Regions from separate parts of the Homo sapiens genome. Here regions 1 and 2 are each linked to region 3. The links come from fine-mapping of genetic effects on gene expression. A gene starts in region 3. Each other region holds a variant in brackets. All regions are shown on one strand. Distances are from middle to middle.

Region 1 (8,063 bases), 65 kb after region 3:
CTTTTCTAGAGTCTCTTAGTAGGTTCATGGCACAGCCAGGTCTAAGCTCTGGTCTCCTGGTACTTGGTCCCGGCATGTCACACTCCCAAGGAGGTTCAGACTTTGAAGACAAAGCAAAAGGCATTGATGGCTGTGCTGTGGGCCTGGCTTAGTCTTCTCAGGCTACTATAACAGGACACTACAGATGGGAGGGCCGACAGGCAGACATTTACTTCTCACTGTCCTGGGTGCTGGAAGTCCAAGATCAAGATGCCAGCAGAATTGGTGTCTGGTGAGGGCTCTCTTTCTGGCTTGAAGACGGCTGCCTTCTTGCTGTGTCTCACGTGACAGACAGACAGGGGGTGGGGGTGGGGGCTCTGGTGTCTCTTCTTGTTCTTACAAAGACCCTAATCACATGATGGGGCCCCCCATCCTCATGACCTCATCTAACCCTAACACCTTCCAAAGGTCTCCTAAAACCTTCATCTTGGGAGTTAGTTAGGGCTTCAACACAGAATTCAGGGGGACACGGATATTCCGTCCATACCAGGGCCCCGCACCTTCTCTGCCCTTTTCCTCTCTGCATGTCCCATGAGTCTGACTCTGGCCTTCTCTGTGCAGGAGAAGCTCCTGACGGAGCGGGAGGTGGCCGCCCTGCGGAGTCAGCTGGAGGAGGGCCGGGAGGTGCTCTCCCACCTGCAGGCGCAGAGAGTGGAGCTGCAGGCACAGGTACGCTCGAGTCTGCCGCGTGTGCATTGGGGCTTCCCACATGTTTCATGGAGGTGTTACGCGCAGGCACACGCATGCAGCTTGAGGAGCTGTCACACGCTGAACATATCCTATGTTCCTGGCAGAAACGGGGTTTTCTGAGTGGGTGGCCAAGCGCTCTGCTCTGGCCTGGACTGAGGAGTTTTCCAGGACACAGGGAGAGTCCTGAGCTGGGGGACACAGGTGCCACGCTCATTCCTGGCCCCTCAGAGGTGCCCCTTGGGACTCCTTCGAGTCATGCCCTCCCCACCGAGTCTTAGGCTTAGGCTGCCCCAGTGTCTACATCATGCATTCATTTTGCCCAGGTCAAGCTTCGTAAGAATAAGAAGAAACGGACACCATAGGGATTTTTATCCTCCACTTGTTCAAATCTGTGCTTCTGTTTTCCTTCTCATGGTAACAGTTCTCCTTCGGAATTTGATTACAACCCGGCAAGAGTGGTTGTATCAGTGTTTGCTTCTAGTTAGAAACGTGTTGGTGGAAAGCTCACATTTCTACCCCCACCCCTTTTGGGTGAAGCTTAATTTGAAAACAAAACAGAAAAGCCCCAAACTGTCCTGTGGCCTGTGCCTTCTTGGCTACTTGCCGGCTCATCTTCTTTGTTCCTTCCGGTTCTCTCTCTTTCTCATTACCCTACAGCAGGTCATTCCACAGGGACGCTTGGGTTAAAATACTGCACCTTTGTATGGCTCTCTAACCACATTTCCCAAACCAAAAAGTAAGTTGACATTTGGTTTGACAAGTACACATGGGGACAAGAGAGCAAAACGTGTAAAAATCGGACACTTCAGAAAGCCTGGACCATTTGGATGTTATGTGTTACTCTGTCTAAAAATGTGAAGCCACAACTAGATGTAGCGCTTTTTATTGATTTCCAGTGCCCCCATGTCTGCTCAGGATTTCATTTTGGGACCTTGGAGTTCACATCCTAATTCCCATCCCAGCACGCACCACACAAAACTCACAGTGCAGCAGCTCTCAGGGGCTGCTGGAAAGCAAACCCGGGTCTGTGGTGGTCCCCTGAACTGACGATCGCAGCAGGAGGAACCAAGTAAGGCACTTAAAACTCCTCCTTCTTGTGAGACAAACCCTGGCTCAGGGACCATGTGCCTCATCCTGGTGACTGGGGCCTGTGTGGTTTCTTCTGAGGCTCTGACAGGATAGAATAAGGGTTGTATGTGTTTGTGTACATGGGGTGTGTGTGTGTGATATACATGGTATGTGTGATATATGTGGGATGTGTATGTGAAGTGTGTGTGGTGTGTGTGTGTCATGTGTATGTGTGTGTGCTGTGTATGTGAATAGGGACGTGGATACAAGCCCAGTCGTGGTCCTAGAGACCAGTGTTTTCCAAATGGCTAGTGACAACTCATTTTTGGATGTAAAATGAACTCAGTAGAATTGACTGGCATGTAAAAGGAAGTCAACAAAATGCTAGACTAAAATATAATAAGAAAAACAGAGTGTACAGCAAGTGAAAGGGAGGATTTGTTTTGTGAAGCCCTTGTTTTATCTCTCTATATCCATATGGATATGTTGAAATACACACACACACACACACACACACACACACACACCTACCTATCTGATGTGTATGGCTCGCAATGAGAAATGTGGTTTTTCCTGGGGCGGTGGTGATAAAGTTGAAAACCACTGCCCTAGAGATACTGAGAAAGATGAAGGAGCCCAGCCTAGATGGCAAATTCCAGTTCCAGGACAAAAAGAATGTTCCTCTCTTTATGTACAGGTATTTGTTGAATATCAAAATAAGAAATTTCACAACAGATTAACCTGGTTTCTGAGAACATGAAATGAAACCGCTGGTTGGCCGCCTGTTTCTGTCCTGAGTGGCTGCAGGAGGACTTCCTGGCTTTTCCCTGCTGCCCTCGTCTCTAAAGCAGGGTCTCAAACATCTCTTCTGTGCTGCCTCCTCCACTCCCACCCGTGGCATTCTGATGGAGACCGCTTCTCAGAAAAATGATGGTAAAGGCATAAAATAAAATACAGATAATTTAAAGGAAACCAGGCTGGGTGTGGTGGCTCACGCCTGTAATGCCAGCACTTTGGGAGGGCAAGGTGAGTGGACTGCTCGAGTCCAGGAATTTGAGACCAGCCTGGGCCACATGACGAAACCCCACCTCTACAAAAAATACAAAAATTAGCTGGGCGTGGTGGTGCGTGCCTGTGGTTCCAGCTACTTAGGAAGCTGACATGGGAGGACTGCCTGAGCCTGGAGAGGTTGAGGCTGCAGTGAGCTGAGACTGAGCCACTGCACTCCAGCCTGGGCAACAGAATGAGACCCCGTTTCCAAAAAAAAAAAAAAAGAAACTAATTATATTAAAACAGTTATCAAAATATTACTGAATCATTTTAAATAAAATGACAGATGTGCTTATACTCACTCAGTAACAAGCTATAGCATGTAGCTGATGAAACACGGCTGTGTCCATTTTCTGTTGCTGCCTTGATGAGTCACCACCAGCACCCGTGTCATCGCAGTTGTGTAGGTGGGAAGTCTGGGTGGGTCCTATCGGTTTCTCTGCTCTGGGTCTCAAAAGGTAGAAAGAAAGATGTTGGCCAGCCTGGGCCCTTGTCCAGAGGCTGTTAGGGGAGAATTTGCTTCCAGTCTCATTCAAGTTCTTGGCAGGAGTGAGGACCCTGTTTCTTTGCCGGCTGCTGGCCAGGAGTGGCTGTCAGGGCTGCCCAGGCTCCTTGGCTTCAGGCCCCTCCACGTTCGGAGCCGGCAGCGAACTCTGAACCCTCTTCCTGCGTCTCATCTCAATGACTTGGACTTACACGTTTCTCTGACTTCTGTTTTTAGGGGATAATCTTGAATAAACTCCTTTCCTTAAAAAAGGGTAACTGATTAAGAACTTTAATTATATCTGCAAAGTCCCTTTTTGCCATGTAACATATTCAAGGGTGTAGCACCAAGGGGAAAAGGTCACGGGGGCCAAAATTCTGCCTCCTTAGCTCTGATGAAAACCCAGACGTGGCTGGGTGCGCCCGGGAGCTCCTGACTCAGTGGGTCTGGGGTGTGGCCCGGGATGCTGCATGTCTAGGTGTCCCTGTGATGGTGCTGCGGCTGGTCCAGGAGCCACACTGAGAACCACAGGGTAAGGGCGGGTCCCAGGGAGTGGGCGAATGTTCCACCTGGTCCCCCTGTGTCCCAGGCTTGGGCCTCATTTCAAATGTTTGTGGC[T/A]GGGTTTTTGCTGGTTTTAAAGGTTTTAGTGGCTTCCCAATGTAGCAGCTAAGCTAGAGCTGAAGGAAGATGTGGCCGCACACCGCCGGGCAGGGCCCGCTCTGTGGCCGGAACTCGGTGGAGGGCGGGCCGAGAGAGAGCGTCTGCTAGCACCAGGGCCGTGGCAGCGGGTTCCGCCTATGGTTAGGGCGTCCGAAGCTTCCCGAACTCTCCACAGCAGGGGTCGTCAGGGTGAGGTCCCCGTCCCAGCAGCGGGGGCACCACCTGGGAACTTGTCAGAAATGCAGATTCACAGGCACCCCAGACCACTGACCCAGGAGCTCTGGGGCGGGCCGGTGCGCCTTGTTTAAGCCCTCCACGTGGCTCTGCGGGCTCAGTCTGGGAGACGCTGGGCGGACGATGGGAGAATAGTGCCTGGGCTTGGAGCTGGAAGCTGGAAGCCTCTCCTTCAAATAAGTGCACATATACCCGTAAGAGCCCCGGAGGAAGCACTTCGGACAGGTGGAGAGGAAAGGACAGGTAATTCTAGTTCCCTAAATTGCATGGACTGAGAGTTTCTGTGACAGGGAAGTAAAGAAAGTCACTTTTTAAAATTGCAAAGTGGGAACCGCCCATGTCTCATTTCTCATTAAAGTCACTTAGCACCATCTAGTGGTTTAGTTTGTGTAAGACAGTATGTAATGAGTTTCCTTTTTTTTTTTTTTAAGACAAAACAAAAACAAAAACAAAAACAAAAAAAAAACCTTACACCTAAAGGTGTCTGGGGTCCTAAGGACTGAGGTGAGAGCTCACCCCTCCAGATGGGGCTCGCGTCAGGCTCCTGCCTGTGTCGTGCCCTCAGCGGCTCACAGCCCAGTGGGGAGACAGATATAAACCAGGCAATCTAACGGTCCAGGCAGAAACAGCAGTCACCTGGCTCCGGATAAAGTTCAGGTTGCCACATGGCCCCACCGTTGGAGGAACCCTGGGCCAACCTCTCTTCTCTTCGTCTCCTGACCCCTCCTGCAGTTTCTGGGACCTCCCCTTTGCTCATTCCTTCTCTCCTTTCTGGAAGTCCCTTTCCTTCCTCGGTTCCCAGGACCGGTCCTGCCTCCTCCTGGAAGCCCCTTTCTTCCTCTGAGATGCCCTGGGCGTGCCTCCCCTGCTGGACTGCGGCCTTCTAGAGGAGGGTCCGTGTCTCATTCTCCTCGGCCAGGCTGGTGCTGGGTGGCAGTGGACGCCGTGCCACAGTGGCTCTCGTCACAGGCATCTCCATTCCTGTTGAGCTCCTGAGACAGGAGCTCTTACTGGTTTTCCTGAACACTCTTCCTTCTGATGAAAGGTTTAAATTATGGAGCTGTAAAAACCACATCGGTATAGACATCAGTCCACTTTTATAAACCAAGTCATCACTTCACTGGACTCAGCAGAATCCCGTAGAGCATCTGCGACCAGTACGGAGTTGGAGGGCTCTGGGCCTCATGGTCATGTGGGGGATGGGGGCTGTGGGGGCGCCCAGGACAGGAGCTCCTCCCGCAGTGTTCCAGCAGAGGATCTCCAGCCTTTAAAACATGCAGCCTTCTTCAAACAAACACAAATGCACACCCAAGAAAACACCCCATCCCTCCACCCCCTACCACTACCACAAAAACAACAATCACCACTTCCTGAGACATAAAAAGATTGCACTCCACTTGTAGGGTAGAAAGATCACAGGTGACTTTCCTGGGCTCTCATTTCCCATTCTGTGATGCTTTGTGGTTCTATTTACAGTTTAAAACTTTGCTAAGTGAAAACCTGCAAGGAGAGGTCTCTGCATGGCTCACACTGACTTTCCCATGTCTTCAGAGAGAACAGGCTGGTGTTGGCCTGTTGCTGTGTGGGAATGGGGAGTTTGCAGGGGCCCTGGAGACAGAGTGTGTGTGTGTGCACGCACGTGTGTGCTTGCATATTGTTGCCTGCAGCAGGGAGGAGGCTGAGGTGCAGGGCAAGGGTGGCCTGGTTCTGGGAGGTGTTTCAGACCTTGTTCAGGTAGATTCGAATCCTGCTGTGGTATTTATGGGCAAGCCACTTTGCCAGTGTGCCCCAGTTTCCTCATCTGTAAAGTGGAAATAATGACAGCCCTTCCCTGATAAGGTTGTTGTGAGGTTGATGAGTTGACCCAGCTTAGGACTTATCAGCATGAGCCACTACCCCCGCTCTGGGCTGGGGAACCCACACCCAAAAGGAACGGCCACCCCAGAGCTCTTGGGTCAGTGATCTGGGGTACATTCTCTTCATATGTAATTTTTTCTTTTACTCTTTATTATGGAAGATTTCAAACATAGAAAAGTGAGAGATTATAGGTGCTATGGCTCACGCCTGTAATCCTAGTACTTTGGGAGGCCAAGGTGGGAGGATCACTTCAGCCCAGAAGTTCAAGACCAGCCTAGGCAACATAATTAGACCTTGTCTCTACAAAAAAAAATTTTTTTTTAATTGGCTGGGCATGGTGGCATTCACCTGTGGTCTCAGCTACTGAGGAGACAAAGGTGTGGGGACCACTTGAGCCCAGGATGTGGAGGCTTCAGGGAGTCCTGATGGCAGCACTGCACTCCAGCCTGGGCAATAGAGTGAGACCCTGCCTGTCTCAAAAATTAAAAGTGAGAATAGTCTGTCTCATGAGCCCTCCCGCCCCATCCCTCAACACATGGCCCCTCTATGTTCTCTACAGCCCCACACACTTCCCTCACCATGTAATTCCAACACTTCTTTGAGATTTGGGGCTCAAAGGGGTCTTTTCAATCCCCATATTCCTTGAAAGTGTTTCCTGGAGTGTCTGAACACTCTGGTGTGGGTGAGATGTGGCTGCACCAGGCGTTAGTGTGTCTGACTTGTATTTGCTATTACAGGCGACTGTTTGAATCCAGATTTCTTGGGAGAAACAGAAACTGGATCACACTAGCTGAAACAGGAAGGGGACTCTTGTTTTATTCAGAAGTAATTTTAGATTTTTGAAAAGTTGCAAAAACAGCACAGTAGCTTCCAATATATACCCCTCACCCAACTTCCACAAAACCACGGGCCGATGATAAAAACCTGGAAATTAACAGTGATCCTGTCGCATTAATAGACTGCACTAAAATCTCACCAGTTGCTCCACGCGTGTTTTTTCCTGGTCGAGATCCTACTCACATTTAGGTGTCATGTCTTGATTGTCTCCCCCATACTGGGATGGTCCCCAGTCTTTCTCTGTCTTCCATGACCGTGATGCTTTGGAAGAACCCAGACCAGTGGCTTTGTGGCATGTCTCTCCTTTTGGGTTTCCCTGATGTTTTCTCAGGATTAGATGGAGGTTCTGCATTCTTGGCAAGACCCCCATGGAGTGACGCTGTGTCCTGAGTATTTCGTTATGTGGCTGTGTCCTCATACAGGTGACAATAACTCTGATCACTTGGTTAAGGTGCTGTCTGCCAGTTTTCTCCACCGGAAAGGTACTATTTTTTTTTTTTTCCAAAGGAGCAGGGTATAAAAGGCAGGGCATGAAATCTGAGAGCAGGTGTGCATCAGGAATCAGGAACCAGGAACTGGGAGCTGAGGCAGCCGCTCTCCGTCTCCTTTTCCATCTCTTCCTTCTCTTGCCATGGCTCCCTAATTTCTGTTTGTCTTTGCCTTTCGGCTTCATTTCTTTTCCTCTCCAAATAATTACCTTTCTCAACTTTGCCATGCACATGAAAGCTCGCCACTCCAGAGCGGCAGCCTCAGACCCGTTCATGTGTCCCTGTTGTCTAGAACCTCCCACCAACTCTGCGATTTCTGAGACCCCTTTCCAGATTCCCAGGAGAGAAGGCATGTGACAGGCCAGCCTAGGTCAGGCCCACCCCTGGTCCTATAACTCTGCACAGGAGAGTGGGGTCATCTTGTTGCTGGGACCGTGCCTTTGGATGGGTGGGGCTGACATCAGACACAGGGACAACGTGGACTGGACAGACATCTCCCCAAAGTGCTTAGCACACGTACCTTTTCTTCCCTTCCTCCTCCCTTCTAATGCAACAGATCTATGGCTGAACACCTGCTTTTTTTTTTTTTTTTGACAGAGTCTCGCTCTGTCACCCAGTCTGGGGTGCTCTGTCACCCAGTCTGGGGTGCTCTGTCA
Region 2 (8,063 bases), 79 kb before region 3:
CCCCACTGGCTGCCTTGTGCCTCGTTGCCCCTCTGCTGGGGCTGAGCTTCCTGTCAGTCTGGGGCCTGCCCACTCCAGCTTCTCTGGGGGTCATGTGTGCCCAACCTGAGGCAACTGTAGGCAGAACTCCGGGTGGGCTGACTGGCCCTGGGCATCTAGAAACACAGGGACCTGTGGGTGTGAGTGTGTTGGGTGGGAGGGGTGAGGTGGCATGAGGGCTGTGCTGCGGGGATCTGGGAGGTGCTTGGCAGTGGGTTCTAGATCACCGGTGTGGAGCAGGCCAGGACGGGAACTCCTCCCATGAGTCCAGGAGGCCTTGACTTGGGCAGGGGAGGTGTAGGGCCTAGGGCTGTGCTGTCCCATATGGGAGGCACTGGTCACATGGGAGCATTTAAATTATCACCTAAATCAGTCAGAAGTAAATAAAATTAAAGATTCCATTCCTCAGTCACACTAGCCACATTCCAAGTGCCTACTAGTCACATGTGGCTAGTGGCTCCCTTTACACAGTGCAGAGACAGATCATCTCAGTCAGAGCAGAAAGTTTTGCACAGCAGTGCTCTAAACAGGACCTTCTGAAAGGAGGTGGCCTCTTGGATCACTAGCCGGTCTGTGCAGACCTGTGTTGGTGTTGCACAGAGGCTGTGGCTGGCCCATAGCACAGGACAGATTAGCAGCAAAACCAGTACTGGAGCTGGGCTCCACCAGAGACTTGAAGTGCTTCTTCAGTCTTCCTAGCCCTACCTGTTACCTGGCTGGTCCAGCAGGGCCCCCTGCTGACAGGTGCCCCAGAGGGAGACCTGGCAGGAGTGGTAGGCCCAGGACATGCTTTTGCAGACCCAGGCTGGAGCTCTTCCAGAACTTCTGCTCTGATTTTCCTCCAAGAGCAGATGGGGGCCCTGCAGCGGGTTTTTACCACTTGTCCATGGCTGTATTTGACAGAGAACACCTGCCTTCCTAATCCTTGCCTTTTACAATTTATTATTACATAAATATGTGTTTCCAGCAAACAAAATTCACAGTATGGAGGCATGGAAGGTGAAAATAGAAAGTCTTTTTGCTCCATCCCAATCACCATCCGCTTCCCGGGGGTGGAGGGGCGGGGGGGTAAATTCATTGTGCTCTTCACATGGGCACCCACAAACGGGAGCTGCAGTGCACACTGCTGTCTGCTTAACAGTGTGTTGGTGACATCTTTCCGTATTGCACCTGCGAAACTGCCACATTCAGCTGCATAATATTCCCTAGCATGACTGTATTGTAATTTATTTAAATGACATTTAAGTAGTGTGCAGCTATTTTGCAGCTAAAATTAATGCTGCAATGATGTACATACACTGTTGTGTGTCTCTACAAAATAAAGTCCTAGATAAGTAATTGTCAAGTCAAAAGGTGGGTACGTTTTTAATTTAGGAAGACAGTGCTGCATTGCTTTCCAGAAACGTTTCACAATTTACGATGAGAGGCCCACAAGATTTGTTTTCTGACTCAGCACTCCTCACACGGTGCTGCTGTGCTACTCTGGGAATGATTCTAACTTCAGGAAGTTTGGGGAGCAGGGAGCATTATAAACCCAGACGTGGGATAAGGAGAAAGCCTCTTTCTTTGGAAATGAAAGGCACAAATTCTTTACTAAATATTTGGAGAGGAGGAAATTGATGGGATCCTCGAGAAGTGGAAATTCCCCAGAATGGAAGCTTCCCCGTGTTCCGGGTACTGTCAGCTGACGCACGTGTCCAGGCTTTAGCTGGTTTGTTCTCCGATAGTTAACTGAGCACCTATGCACAGTGTCTATTAGGAAAGTCAAGTTTCTAACACAAGACGTGTGTGTATGCAGTGGTGTTGGTTTTTAAAAAAATCTATTTTTATCCTCAGATTGAGTCTTTGTTTGCAGGATTATGCTGGTTTGCCTCCCACCTGGGCTGCCCTGATCTTGTACTAATCACCATCTGGGTGTTACACTGGCAGGAGAGCTGTCCCACCCAGCACCTGGAATCAAGTCTGGATCCTACAGTGTGGGCGTAGACTGAGGAAGTACATATGTACATTCTGAAGACCCCACAGTTAGCATGAGCTCCAGAACAGTGTACTTTTAACTGGAGCTTGCTTCACTCATTGTTGCTGCTGGTTGGAAACAGGTGTTTCCTCATTACCTCTGCTAGCACGTCACTCAGGGGATGCGGGGATGCAGGGTACTTGTTGCACTCTTGGGGAGTCTGGAGCTCACCCAAGGACCTGTGACCTTTCTGCCTAATGGACGGGGGTGGGTAACCCTGGGGACATGGCACTTCTGTCTTGGCTGTGGGCCTGCTTTCTGCGGGGCCCTCTTTCCCCAGCCTGCTGATGCAAGCCAGTTTTACTCTGTGGCCAGAGAGACCATTGTGTCATGGCCCAGGAGAACCCACCCAACCTCCATGAGGTGGCAAACACTCAGAAACAGGCATTTCAGAGGCCCATTCTTGCCACGTTGTCAGATAAGTCCATGTGGGAAAAAGAGGCCACCTTTGGGAGGTAGGATTATGGGTAAATGTTAGTATCTTCCTTTCACCCTTCTGCATTTTCCAGTTTTTCTATAACTTTTTTTTTTTTATGGAGAAGAAACAACTCCATTATGTGTCTCTAAGTCAAATAAACAGGCCCTCATTATACCAAAGCTGATGGAACTCTCATCCTTCTGGGTGTTTTGAGGCAGCCCTGTGTCCTCTGAGGAGCAGCAAGGAACACGTTGCTCCTTTTGGGGTCTGGAATGAGGAAAGGTAGTGCCAGCTCTTCTGAGGCCTCCAGAAGGAGGCCAGTGCGTGTCCCAGCCCTAGCACACAGGCATCTGGGAGGCATTCATGAACTGAGGTAAGGTGGGAAGTTAAAGGCAGTTCCCACATTCTGGAGCCTGGCAGTGCCGTGGTGGGAGGGGGCCTGTGAGCTCTGTGTCGTGTGCAGTCTCGCTGAGCCCCCATTCTACCCCTACAATAGGAAATGTAACCTAAAATCCCAAGTCGTGTTCTGCAATCTAATGGGGCTGGGGTCACAGGTCAGGGGGTATGGGGAAGAGTTGTCAAGCCCCCAGGAAACGGTATTCAAGGTGTCTAGGGTAGCAGGGCCCTTAAACAATTTGACTTCGTGATGGGAACACCCCTTGCTCCCAGCTCCTCACCCACCCACCCACCCACGCCTGTCCTCCCCATGTGTAGCCTGCTTTGCTCCAAACCCAGCGCTGCTTAGCACAGCAGGTCTGACGCCACTGCTCTCCCCAGCCAGGTGTTTGTTCAGATGTGCAGTTTAGGAGGCTGGTTTCCATGCCTTTATCCCTCGTGCAATTCTCTAAGGTGGATTTGAATTTTTACCTGTTTGACAGAAGCAGAAAGCAAAGCTCAGACTTCCCAGAAGTCATGCACATGACCAGCAGATGGCAGAGCGGCCGGTGTGGGCAGCCCCTCCCGAGGCCCCCGCCCTGCCCGGCAGGTGCCCCTGTGCCCTTCTCGCCGGCAGTTGCACAGAGAGGTGTACACGGAGATCAAGTCAGATACTTTTTCTTTTGAACCTAACTCAGTTTCTCAGGGTCTGAAGCTCTGAAGAAAACTCTCTGGGGCTTATGACCCTTTATTCACTTTCTGTGGAAGTTCTTCAAACCCAACTTTTTCTTTTCTTCTTCTTTTTTTAAAGAAGAACAAAAACATCCCCTAGGGAAGCGAGCCAAGTATCAGTGTGAGAAGCTGCTAGATGACACTCTTCCAGAAATCTCTTTTCAGCCACTTGAAAACGTGTTGAGGCTGGGACTCCGGTCACTGCCCCCAGACGGCTGTGGTCAGACAGCCTGGGATTAAAAATCCCCTGCCGTTTTCTGCAGGCATTAGGTAGAGTCCTAATTGCTGTTTAAACTGTATTCTCCTTGGGCCAGCCTGTGTGCCTTGGGAAGGGCCTTGCCCAGAGGTCCTCCAGGAATTGTCGTTCTTTTAAAAA[T/C]ATTGTGATGTGGGTTTTTTTTAACTCCAGGTATAAAATTGGTTTTGTTGAAATTTGGAGGAAAAAACAAAACTTTAAAGAGGAAAACAGTTCTTCAATCTATAGGATATTTTAAATTCCATTAGATACCATTAAATATACCAGTCCCCAAGTTTGTAGCCGATTACGTTTTTCTCCAACTAAAGGAAAAGGACTGATTGAAAGGCCCTGAATTGGGTTGTTCTTGACATTATTTGTACTGAGCTCCATTGCCCTTAAAGCTGCGGATGTGACCGTTCGTGGCATTTGGGGTCAAGTGCAGCTGCGCCTCCTTGGCCTGCTTCCTGTCAGGAGCGCTGAGCAGCGCTTGGGCAAGGCCGGGCTCTGTGGCCTGAGCTGGGCCTGGAGTCCACTGTTTGTGCACTGCCCAGGGCCTGCCTCAGCTGTGGGCAGATGAGCAATGAGTGAGAGCAGGAGTCGCAGTTTGCCTCCAGGAGCATTTGGTAGATCTTCATTTCCTCCAGGGTCTCATAAAGCTCACTTCCCCCACAGGCTCAGGAGGAGCCTTCACGGCCACAGTCCAAGAACGAGCAGTTAGAGGCCAGCAGTGATGTTGGCCGGAGCTCCTCCCTAGAGAGCGTCTTGCGTCCCACCTCGGGGTGGGACCCTGAAGGGAGCCGGCTCCTCAGGTTGAGAGAGACAGAGATGCCCTTGGCTTTGGGTCAGCAGGAATGGGGAGCTTGTCCTCAGCCTCTGAATCTTGGTCTGCAGAGGCTGATGACTGCTTGCGTGGTGCTGGGCTTCCAGGAGGCATGTGGGAGCCCTTTCCTGGGGCCCCAGGGTCTTCACCTTCTTACAGCAGACCTGAGTTTGGGTCGGGTGACTGGGGACTACAGGGCGTGGAAGGCACGCCAAGATTGCGATCTGGCTTGGGCAGCCATGCTGGGTGCCTTGGTCTGCACTGTCTGGAGTCACCCCGTGCAGGCCCGGAGGCAGCAGCTATTCAGACTACATGTGTGTGTCTGAGGGAGGCACCCTCAGAACTGATCTGGACAATCTCTTAGGAAATGAGAGTTTTTGCCACTGGAGTTCTTCCCCAAGCCCTCAAGTCCATGCTGTTTCAGGTTCCATTGCCAGAGTCCCTGGGTTGACACCTGGGCCTCTCTCCCACCAGCTCAGCTTCCTGAATACTCGGGCCCAGATCCTGGTCCTGGGCTCTTAGGACCCAGCGGGGATAGGCTCTTAGGACCAGGGTCCAGGCCAGCTGGTCTGCCTGCTTCCAGCCGCATCCCCCTGGGCATCCTGAAATCTTTTTCTCAAATTCAAACGCTCCTTCCTAGGCATCGCTTGTTGCCTACAGAATAAAATCCAGATTCCCAGGGCCTATGAAGACTTGGACCTAGTCCAACCTCGGGTGCAAGTCTGACACGCTAGGGCCCAAAGCCCCTCACCGTGTCCTTACCCAGCTATGCTTGGCCCAATGCCTTAAAGCCTTTCTCGGCATTGCTGCCACAATTGTTCTCCAGGTCCCCCTTGTGTCACTCTTCTGCCTTATGGCCCTGTGTCCTCTGCCTCTGTTGGCCACAGCCCAACCTATAACTTAACTTTCCAGGCCCAGCAATTTACGAACTGCTGGGTATGCAGGTGGTACATACTTTGTGTCTAGAGACCACCTGGCCCTGCCTGCCCTGATCAGGGCTGCTGGGCACCTGTAGCAGCAGCTGGAGCTGAGCCGGAGCCTTTTGTGGGGCCCATCCCAGGGCCAAGGCGATAATCCCCTCCTATTAACCACCAGCTGCTGCCAGGGCTCAGGCGGCAGTTCCTGGAGTGGTTCTGATACCCTCCCCGTGGACTGAGAGAGCCAGGTGTGCACAGTGCAGGGGTGCTCCAGCAGCTGATGTGGGGGGCTGGCCGCTGAGTCTCATGAGGCCACTTAGGGCTGAGATCCTCCTTCTATGCCTGAGCCCTGGCCATGGGGGATCCTGGAAATTATACAGAGAGAAAAGCCTCATCCAAGGACGCCACAGTTGACAGTGAGAGAGAACACTAAGTGCCTCTTTGCCAGATGAGTTTAATTTTAGGTGCCTGAGCCTCCCAGTGTGGTCGCAGAAGGGAGAGTCATTTTGAAATTTGGGGTGTGAGGTGCGTTATCTGAGCTGCTGTGAGCTGCTTGAAGGCCGGCCATGCTGATTTATTTTGCTGTGCGTTACCCTGCGCCAGGCATGGTTCCAAGCACGTTGCAACTTACTCTTTTCAGCCACGCTGTGAGGGGAACAATGATCATCCCCGTTTTGTAGGCAAGGAAACAGAAGCAAAGGAAGGTTAAGCCACTTGTCCAAGGACAAAGGTGGGAAGGAGCTGAGCTGGGATTCGACTCCAGGCCACCTGGTCCCAGAGGCCTTGCTCTGACCTTGGTGCCCCACTGCCCAAGGACAGAGGTGACCTGCAGACTGGACGTGGCCCACGGATGTGTTTGTTCATCTGTACAGTGGTTTCATTCATTTATTTGTTTTTTATTGAGTTAGCTGTCAGCAGTAAAGATGAGAAGATAGCACTTAAAAATCTCGTTTCCAGGCTCTTGGGCAGGCCTGTGGCTTTGAGGGTTCTGGCTCAGATTCCCCCATTGCAGCTATCACCTGGAGGTGAAGTGCCGTGCCCAGGACCACCCAGCTCAGGAGAGGCCACCCCCCTGAGCCCAGGCCTGTGTGGTTATTTGTCACAGTACCTGTCCCATTCCTGCAGGGCCTGGCCCCTGGGGTGTTGCTGTGTCCCCTGCCAGACAGAGGTCTGGATTATCCATCAAAGTGAGACACTGGCCTGCGTCTCTACTCTTGGGTCTCCTGCTCCCTGGTCACTCCCCAGGCCTCCTGGCCTGTCCCTTCCTGGTATTTCATACCCACCAAGATGGGCAAAGCGTTAGCCGCAGGAGCAAGCCCTCAGGGAGCTGAGCTTTTCCAGCATTCACTGCACCCTGGGCCTTTTGAAGTCTGTGATTTCACAGACTAGGTGTTGAGTCTGAGAGACTTAGTTTAGTGCGTTAAGATTTCACAATTCGGAAGATTACTGGTATCTTCGAGTATTTGCTGGAGCCCTAAGTGATGTGCTGGGCACGCCTTAGGCTCCCGTTAGTACGTTATTTAAATGCAACTCATCTGGAGGCCCAGAAATCCTGCCTCTGCTTCTGAGGGCTTTCCTTTTTTCTTTCAGTTGTGCTGCCCTTGATTTGGGGACAATTGAGACAGCAGAGTTTTTACCTAAAAGATTTAATGAAAAATGATTTGTAAAGTTATAGCTCTCTAAAAACAGTATAAAAGGTAGTGTTTGTATGAGTGTGGCAAAGGCTGTGGAAGTTTCTGGGGGGCCATGAGAGGTGGCAGAGGAGAGCGTTAACATTTTGCTGTACGCAGCTTTGCGTTTGTTTCGCGTGTTGCAAGTTTTTATTTTTCTGTTAAAATATCTAATAGAATGGAATTACGTTAGAAAGTTTTAATAAAGATTTATGAGAATGCCGCTCCGAGAACACTCTCGGGAGCACTCTGTGGACTGAGCCTGCGGCGGGTGAGCATGTGGCCATGCTGCCCCTGTGCAGGAAGCGGCGTCCTAGAGCGCGTGCCCTCCAGCTGCCTTATCCAGATGTTTCCCCACCCAGCAGTGCAGTAGGGGCCGTGGGGCCTGGAAGGGTGGTCTTTAAGGAGAGAGTTCAAGAGAGGCCAGAGCTCTTGGGTCACTCTGGAACCTCTGTAGGACCAGGGGCTGCCAGGAATTCAGCAGGGGGCACTTTGGGGGTCCCTGGTTCTGGAAAGGAATAGGCCAGCCAGTCCAGGAGAAACAGAATGTGAGCCACACACGTGTGAGCCATGGATGTGATGTAAATGTCCTCAGCCACATTTAAAAAGGCCAGCAAGAAACAAATGGACTGAATGTTAACGATACATTTTGTTTGACCCAGTTTATCCAAAATGTTATTTCAACATACAATCCATATATAAAATTATTACAGATACTTCACATTCTTTTTTTTTCATACCAAATCTTCTAAATTCCACGTGTACTTTCCACTCATAGCACATCTCGAGTCAGGCCAGCCACGTTGCAGGTGCCCAGTAGCCACACATGGCTGGTGCCCA
Region 3 (8,063 bases):
AGAAGCCTCTAACACCCAGGCTCAAGCAATACTCCCACCTCAGTCCCCCAAATAGCTAGGAGTATAGGCACATGCCAGCATGCCCAGTTAATTTTTATTTAATTTTTTTGTTCAGACAAGGTCTCACTATATTGTCCAGGCTGGTCTCCAACTCCTGGCTTCAAGCAATCCTCCTGCCTCAACCTCCCAACGTGCTGGGATGACAGGTATAGGCCACTGTATCCAGCTGATTTTTTTTTTTTTTTTTTTACTGCTACATTTACTTTATGGCTCTGCAAATAAGCTTAGGTGAAGATGGTAAGTATTTACAGAATGGCCAGGTTTGCAGGATGCAGCATGCGTGTAAAAACCTAAGATGCAATAAACATATGAAAAGAGTCAGCTCACTAGTAATCAAAGAAATGCAAAATAAAATAATGAGAAACCATTTCACAACCATCAGACTGGCAAAGGTTTCAAGTCTCTTATTAAGTGGTGAAAGGCAATGTAGAAACAAGCTGTTAATGATGAGATACAACCAGAACGAACCAGTAGTAGAGTAGAAAATATGTATGCTCCAATCCAGGGCTTCCGCTTCTAGATATACACCATGGAGAGATACACACTGGGGCTAGAGAAGTAATATATAGCAATATATGACATGGAAATTGCCTATTATAAAAACTTTAAATAGACCAAAAAAAGGCAAAAAATTAGGAAATGGCTGAATGTCTATCAACAGGGGAATGGATAAACTTGCACAATCATACAAAAGAACACAATTCAGCAGTTGAAGAACCAAAGCTACAAATAAATCCAAAAGCTGCCCTCCCCTGGGAAAAAAAAAACCACCCCCACAAAGTTTAATTTTTTCTCACAGAGCTGCAAAAGGATACATGAAGCACAGTATTTACGTAAGTTTTAAAAGCACATCAAGGCAATACATATGAATGATTAAGTAGCTAAAAGTATGGAACTATCAATGAATATCAATTTCAGGTGACTACTGTGAACTTTACCTGAGCTCTGTGTTCTCAGAAAGCAGTGATGGTTAATCCACCCCACCGTTTTGTGTTCTGGGAAACAGGTAACTGCAAAGAACTGGCCTGTTGCATATTTTCAAATAAGGCAATCAGGAATGCTCTCCTAATTGCAATAGCCTGAATAAAATCATCTCCTTAACCAGCCAGGATATTATGTCTTTGACACAGGAATGGTTATAACTCTAGGGAGGGAAGGGAGTGGGATGAGGAAGATGATGCATATTTAGCTGTAATGATAACATAAAAACCTGAAATATGGCAATAAGATAGCCCTGTTTTTCCTGTACAAAAGGATCTGTTATTCTGTGTACTTTTCTGCTTAAAATGTTTCAAAATTATTATTTTAAAACTTGGAGTTGGAAAAGGTGATTTGTCTCAAGTCAATTAATCCTTTACAATCTGTTTTCTCATATGTTAAATAGGCATGTGAATACATGCCCAACCTATTTCACTGGGTTGTAGTGTTTTTGCTAATCACCAAGTATTAGAATACTTGAATACTGCGCCAATTAGTTCAGTCTGTGAGACCACAGTCCAGATTAGGATAAGGTTAAGGGTTAGATTATCGTGCAAACCTTTTAACTCTACTTCAGGGGCAAGACTACACTCTTACTTTCCAAGAAGCATAAAAGATACTCTGGTTACAAGAGGAGCTAGGCAAGTCTAGGTGTGATGTCTCAATCCATATCCAGTAGAACTACTGAGCAAATAACCTTAGTAACTTGATGATGGGCTACTAAACAATCTCTGTATAAGGAGGCTGGCACACCCAGTACACACACACACACGTTTTGTTTGGGGTCTGTAATTGTGGTTCACGTGGAGGCAGACGTTGTTTGTTTTTTGTTGGAGGAGACATCTGAAAACATCTAATCTCATCCTGAAGCGCCCAGCTGGTTTCAAACTGCTTTATTTCAGGTGCTTCTAAAAGACTTGGTGAGTACAAGGAAGTGATTCTGCTAATTTAGAACAAACCCATCGGTAGTTAAAATTTAATCTTAAAAGAAACTTGGAACCAAGCATCTAACCAAAAGAGCTAAAAGCAAAGTGCTAGACTCTGGGATAATACCCACAATATTCTCTAATCACTGAACTAAACAAAGATGCTCCTGCGCTCATAAGGCTAAAAACAAAAATAACCTTTAAAAATGGGGGGTCTATAATCTGAACTCTAAGAGTAACTTGTAAGGTCTTCTTGATCTCCCTAAAGCCAACAATTTTGAAGCGTATTTGGAAATCGCTCATTTCTAATTTTTATTTCTCCCACTCCTCACAAGAACCAGGAAATATAACAGACCCTTCCTTCCTTGAATTTAGTTAAGCTTTAACTAAAACTAAGCATTTAACTAAAGGTAAAATGTTTGGTCTCTTATTTTCAAACAGAAAAATAAAGTCTGTATTAGCCACTCAATAAAAAAGCATAATGTCAAATCAGAAGTCTCTAGAGCAGACCCTAGTCAGCTTCAAAGCACTTTCACAGAGTGAATGGTCTTAAGCGTACCATAACTCAAAGCCCCTAGATTAAGTCTTTCAGTATAAAGTAGCATATACATTTAAAATGTTATTAAATTTCTAATAATTAGATATTAAAAAGACTCAAGATGCTGATACTTTGTAGCTTACAGCATTAAACCAAAGAAGAACCAAAAACTGAACAGTATCAAATCCCTATTACATACATATCTACAGTCATCAAGAAACTACCGGTTTATCTTTTCTTTCACTAAGGGGCCGCCTGCATGTTCACGGAAGTTGTAGTAACTTAAGAAAACCAAAACTGTTATACAGTGAAAACAGTTTGTATGCAGATAAGCTGGTACCAACTGCTTCTAGACAGATGCAATTACAGTGTAATATTTCTAGCAAAGTCTGGTAAGGCTACGCCTGCAAATCACTGACCAAAAATGGTAACAGTGTGTGCACACTAACGAAAACGACAAAATGTTCCAACTGATAGTTCAGTTGAGAATACGTTTTTAAATAGCTAATTAGAGTGACAGTGTAAAGGGGGAAAATATGTAAATTAAGCAAAATGTCCATCATATAGAATATACTAATGAGCACCTGTTTACTTTCTGGTGACTCCAGTATTTTAATGGTTTTTAAAGCTCTTAAATTTGGTTGTATCAGCATCCCAGCATCATGCCCACACCTTGCGCACCAAGTTCTGGCAGAGTCCAACTGTCTACAGGTCAGAAAAAAAATTCTAACCATACACGGACAGATCGGGCAGGGAAGGGTTAAAACAGACACTGCCAAGCTTGACAAGCACGACGAGAGTGCTGCTGGAAGCCGATTGCCAGATAAAAAGAAAAAAACAAAGGAGCTGCAAGGCCACCCCGTTCTAAATCATGCCAGGATCCTGCTCGTTAGCGATCATTCCGTGCTCTAGGACTGTTCCATAAAGGCTTTATCTTCCTTATTGAGATGGACAGACCTCAAGGGCTGGAACGCGCACAAGTCACCAAGCGCCTCAGCGCCAGCTCTGGGGAAACCCACGCCAACAAGGACGGTGGCCGGATTCCGACGCCCCCCGCCCCCCACTCCCCGGCCTCGGTGTGCAGACCCCCGGATGGATTTCACAGAGCGGGTGGGGGCGCTCGACCCCAGCCAGTTGTTGCAAGGCCGGGTCTGGAGACACCCGCAGAGGCCACGCTCAGGGCGGCGGCCTCGCCCCAGCTGGGAGCTGCGCAACAGCCGCGGATCCACCCCGGGGCGCGGGGGCCCAGCCAGGACGGCGGGAGACGGAGGCCCAGAGACCCCCCCTCACCCGCAGCCCGGACACTGCAGCCGGACCGGGTCCCTCCCCGGGCTGAGGCACGGCTCACCCCCTTAGCCCCGACTCCGCGGCGCCCCAGAGACACACTGCTCCCGGCCGCCTCGGCCCACGCCTCGGCCTCCCTCCTACTCACCATCTTCGCCGCGGCGGTCGCAGGGACGCGGGGGAGGGAGCCGGCGGGCAGCGAGTATGCAGACCGTCCTCCTCACGGCTGCGGGACCGAGAGACCCAGCGCTGAGCTGACGCGGCGGCGCGAGCTTACCCCGGGGCGGGCGCGCCTCAGGACGGAACGCGGCTGCGCACGTCACGCACCGCCTGCCGTTGCTACGCAACCAGCCGGCCAGGCAACGCCCCCCCGGCGGCTATCCAGAGTCTCGGAGGGGAGCTTCCCTCATCTGCTGAAGGCTGCGGGGCAGGGTCCGCCTCACCAGAAAGTGTTTAGGGGTGGGGGTGCGTCCTCTCTGGTCTGCAGGAGGCTAGAAGGCGGACTGGGCTGGCTCCTGCTGGCGAGGGGCGGGCAAAAGATGATGGGGGAGGGGTGGCCTTCCTTCGCCTCCTCGGCGGGGCCACCTGACGCCCCACCCACTGTGCAGGCATGGCCCGCGCGGGGAGGCAGCCACCTGGCCAGGTGTGCCTGCCGCTGGGGCGGGGCGAGGCCGTGGAGGGGAAAAGGAGGGGAGAGCCGGGGGAGAGGGGTACAGAGTGTGGGAAGGAGGGGGATTTGGAGGGGAGAGGCGAGGGGCACATAGTTGGGGGAGGAGGAGGATGGAGAGGGGAGGGAAGAGGTGAGGGAGAGGGGACAGTGTGGGGAGAGGAGGGGGATGTGGGGGGAGGGGCGAGGGGGCACTTAGTGGGGGAGGTGGGGGCAAGGGGAGAGGTGAGGGAGAGGGACACAGTGGTGGAAGGAGAGAGATGTTGGGGGTTGGGAGGGCAGGGCCCGAGGAGGGGGAACGCACTGGGGGAGGACCCACGGGAGCGGAGTCGCGGGCCGCGGCAGCGGGGACGCCTCCCGCATTTTTTACCTACTTTGGTGCGATTCCCGCCGCCCTCCCCTGATTGGCCCAGTCTGGCTTGTCCTGCCCTCGCGTGAGGGGAAAAAAGTCTGCACATTTTTCCTCCTTCCCGAGGCGACCGTGGCCATGCAGAGTGCTCTGTGAGTCACCGTTAATTTCAGGTCTGGAAAAACAAGGAGCATTTATTTATCTTTGGGAACTGCCGGGGAAGGAGGCCGGCGGCGCGCAGGGGTGTGGCTGGGAAAGGCCGCGCTGTCCCGGGACGGTGGCGCCAGCCCCGCCGCTCAGTTCTCCGGGTTTTTAATTTGGAATTGTGTTTTTCTAATGGGCGGTTGCGTCGGAAACACGGTTTTCAGAGGGCCCAGATGAATCCCAGCGTTTTTGCTGCGGGTGTTTTTGTGGGAAATAAAGGGAACAAAGAATTTTATAAATTAATTTAGGTTACCGAGAACATCATGGCCTCGACCAAAACTATTTTAATTCTCCAAATATGAGACTTTTGGACAAGATGGTCAGTATTTTTTTTTCCGGCACTACGTAAAATCTAGGTTGTATGTGGCTTTTGTTCTGCCCCACTCAACATAGGAACCCATTTCTCATTACCCTCGTTCTTTTTAAAAAAGACAGTAAGTTGTGCAGTTCTAAGCCTTTACCACCTGAGACATGATTTTTGGCGGGCTAGAGCAGTGGTTCTTTAGCATGCATCAGAATCACCTGGAAAAGTTGTTCAAAGCTAGATTTGTGTGCCCCATCCCCAAGGTTCCCTCACTGCTTCTAAGATGATGCTTGAGAATGGGCATTTCTAACAACTCCTAGGTGATGCTGAAGATGCCAGTCCGAGACCACACTCCTGAACTGAGAAGGAACCCCCCTGTATCCTCCTGCAGCTGGAACCCTTTGCTTTTCTGCCTGCCTAGGACCCTGTGGCCCTTACACTTCTTAATATTCAGACTTCCTTTCTAGTCCAAAAGTGAATGGTGCTCATTTAAGGATACATGCCTGCCTGCTTGCTCCAGCCTCTCCTGCATTTCGTCCTCCACTCTGCCACCAGAGTTAGGTCCAAACATAAGACTGGTCTTGTTACATTCTTGCTTAAAATTTGCTGTGGCTTCCTCCATAACCCTCAGCAGGTCAGTCTGGCCCGTCTGCCTCTGGCCTCAGCCTACTTTTTCTGCCCTATCTCCCATATCTTCCTAAGTGCCCACTGCCCCTCCCAGACGAAACTTCTCATTCCAGAACACCTCTTACTAGTTCTAACTACCTTGATCATGGGCCTGCTTATTTTTTCAGCCTGGGATGTTCCTATCACCCTTCGCATCTGAAGACTTCTCTTACCACTTCCCAAGGATCAATAGTAGTTCCTTCTTTTTTTTTTTTTCGTGCCCCGTACCCCTTACAACTCCTTCACCCCCCTAGTTCCTTCTATAATCCCAGAGTTCATCACTTCTCAAATCTTTTTTTTTTTTTTTTGAGACTGAGTTTCACTCTTGTTGCCCAGACTGTAGTGCAATGGTGCGATCTCGGGTCACTGCAACCTCCGCCTCTCGGGTTCAAGCGATTCTCCTGCCTCAACCTCCCGAGTAGCTGGGATTACAGGCATGCGCCACCACACCCGGCTAATTTTGTATTTTTAGTAGAGATAAGGTTTCTCCGTGTTGGTCAGGCTGGTCTTGAACTCCCGACCTCAGGTGATCTGGCCACCTTGGCCTCCCAAAGTGCTGAGATTACAGGCCTTAGACACCGAGCGCCCGGCCACCTCTCAAATCTTAATAAAGATCCAAATCACCTGAGATCCTTGTTAAACTGCAGATTCCGGGGTTGAGGGGTGGAGTCTTAGATGGCCCCAGGAGATGCAGATGCTATACTTTGAGTTAGGAGGTTTCATGGTTTTTTCCCTACAATTACTGTAGCTCTGTAATTATTTATGTGCATTTTCCATTACTACCAGATAGCTGGGAGTTCCTTGAGGTCATGGGGTATTTAAGATGCGTATGTATGAACTGGCATAGCCCCTGATACATAGTAGGTGTTTAATAAGTATTGAATAAGTGAACCAGTATCTGAAGATGTTTTACAATTTATCAAACTTATATATCAGTTTATCATAACTTAAGATGAGCCCCCATTTTTTTTAGGTCCCACTGAACTTCAGCCTCTGCATTTAACACCCAGCTTTTCTAGACATTGACATTCCTCCTCTCCACACGGAGGGAAAGAGTTTTCATACAATGCTATAGACTAATAAAGATTTATGCCCTCCGGAAGCTGAAAGGTAATCCCCAATGTGATGGTATTTGAAGTTGGGGCCTTTGGACAGCGATTAGGCCATGAGAGCAGAGCCCCCTTTAATAGGATTAGTGCCCTTATAAAAGAGGTCCTAGGCCGGGCACCGTGGCTCACACCTGTAATCCCAGCACTTTAGGGGGCTGAGGCAGGTGGATCACGAGGTCAGGAGTTCAAGACCAGGCTGGCCAAGATGGTGAAACCCCGTCTCTACTAAAAATACAAAAATCAGCCAGGCGTGGTGGCAGGCACCTGTAATCTCAGCTATTCAGGAGGCTGAGGCAGGGAATTGCTTGAACCCAGGAGGCAGGGGCTGCAGTGAGCTGAGATCGTGCCACTGCACTCCATCCTGGGCAACAGAGCGAGACTGTGTCTCAAAAAAAAAGAGGTCCTAGACTACTGCTTGCCACTTCCACCATTGTGAGAACACAGCAAAAAGGTTCATCTATGAACCAGGAAGTGGGCTCTCACCAGACACTGAATCTGCTGGTGACTTGATCTTGGACTTCACAGCCTCCAGAACTATGAGAAGTAAATTGCTGTTGTTTGTAAGCCACCCAGTTTATGGTATTCTGCTATAGCAGCCTGAACAGACTAAGACACATAAGGTCTCTCCTTAAATATGAGATTGGTATATTTCAATTTCGTTTAGAAAACATTTTGCATACTTAATCTGTGAACATATAGGCACTTGAATTTAAAACCATTAATATAAGCGGCAGGGAAGAAGAAATGATACATTAACGAGGAGCCTGAAGAGAGATGTGTATTAATAGATAGGCTGGGGAAAGCTCCTTTGCTGGGAGACATAACACTGTCAATATACAGCATAGAAAAAAACTTTTAACTCCTCCCTCTCCACAAATTCACCTATTTCCTATCTCCTATCCCTATTTATGTCAGTAGTCTTTTTTTTTTTTTTTTTTTTTTTGAGACGGAGTCTTGCTCTGTCACCCAGGCTGGAGT

Evidence for each region.
Region 1: its variant is fine-mapped to the expression of DSTN in whole blood (TOPMed, PIP above 0.99).
Region 2: its variant is fine-mapped to the expression of DSTN in whole blood (INTERVAL, PIP above 0.99).

The regions. Positions count from the first base shown.
Region 1 is chr20:17,501,534-17,509,596 of GRCh38, reverse strand. It overlaps BFSP1 (beaded filament structural protein 1), which reads left to right. Exons shown (of 8, transcript NM_001195.5): 5 at 601-708. Among named protein-coding and RNA genes, the nearest start is that of BFSP1, 26 kb to the left of the region's middle. RefSeq lists an enhancer at 4,562-5,085. The variant T/A (reference allele first, on the strand shown) is at 3,950.
Region 2 is chr20:17,644,689-17,652,751 of GRCh38, reverse strand. The region is part of intron 3 of RRBP1 (ribosome binding protein 1); the gene reads left to right. Among named protein-coding and RNA genes, the nearest start is that of RRBP1, 34 kb to the left of the region's middle. RefSeq lists silencers at 697-776, 3,388-3,517, 4,167-4,256 and enhancers at 3,669-4,372, 4,437-4,526. The variant T/C (reference allele first, on the strand shown) is at 3,958.
Region 3 is chr20:17,566,083-17,574,145 of GRCh38, reverse strand. It overlaps DSTN (destrin, actin depolymerizing factor), which reads right to left and starts at 4,071. Exons shown (of 4, transcript NM_006870.4): 1 at 3,935-4,071. The coding sequence starts at 3,937. It also overlaps a transcript of BFSP1 not described here. RefSeq lists silencers at 3,631-3,920, 3,941-4,130 and an enhancer at 4,541-5,108.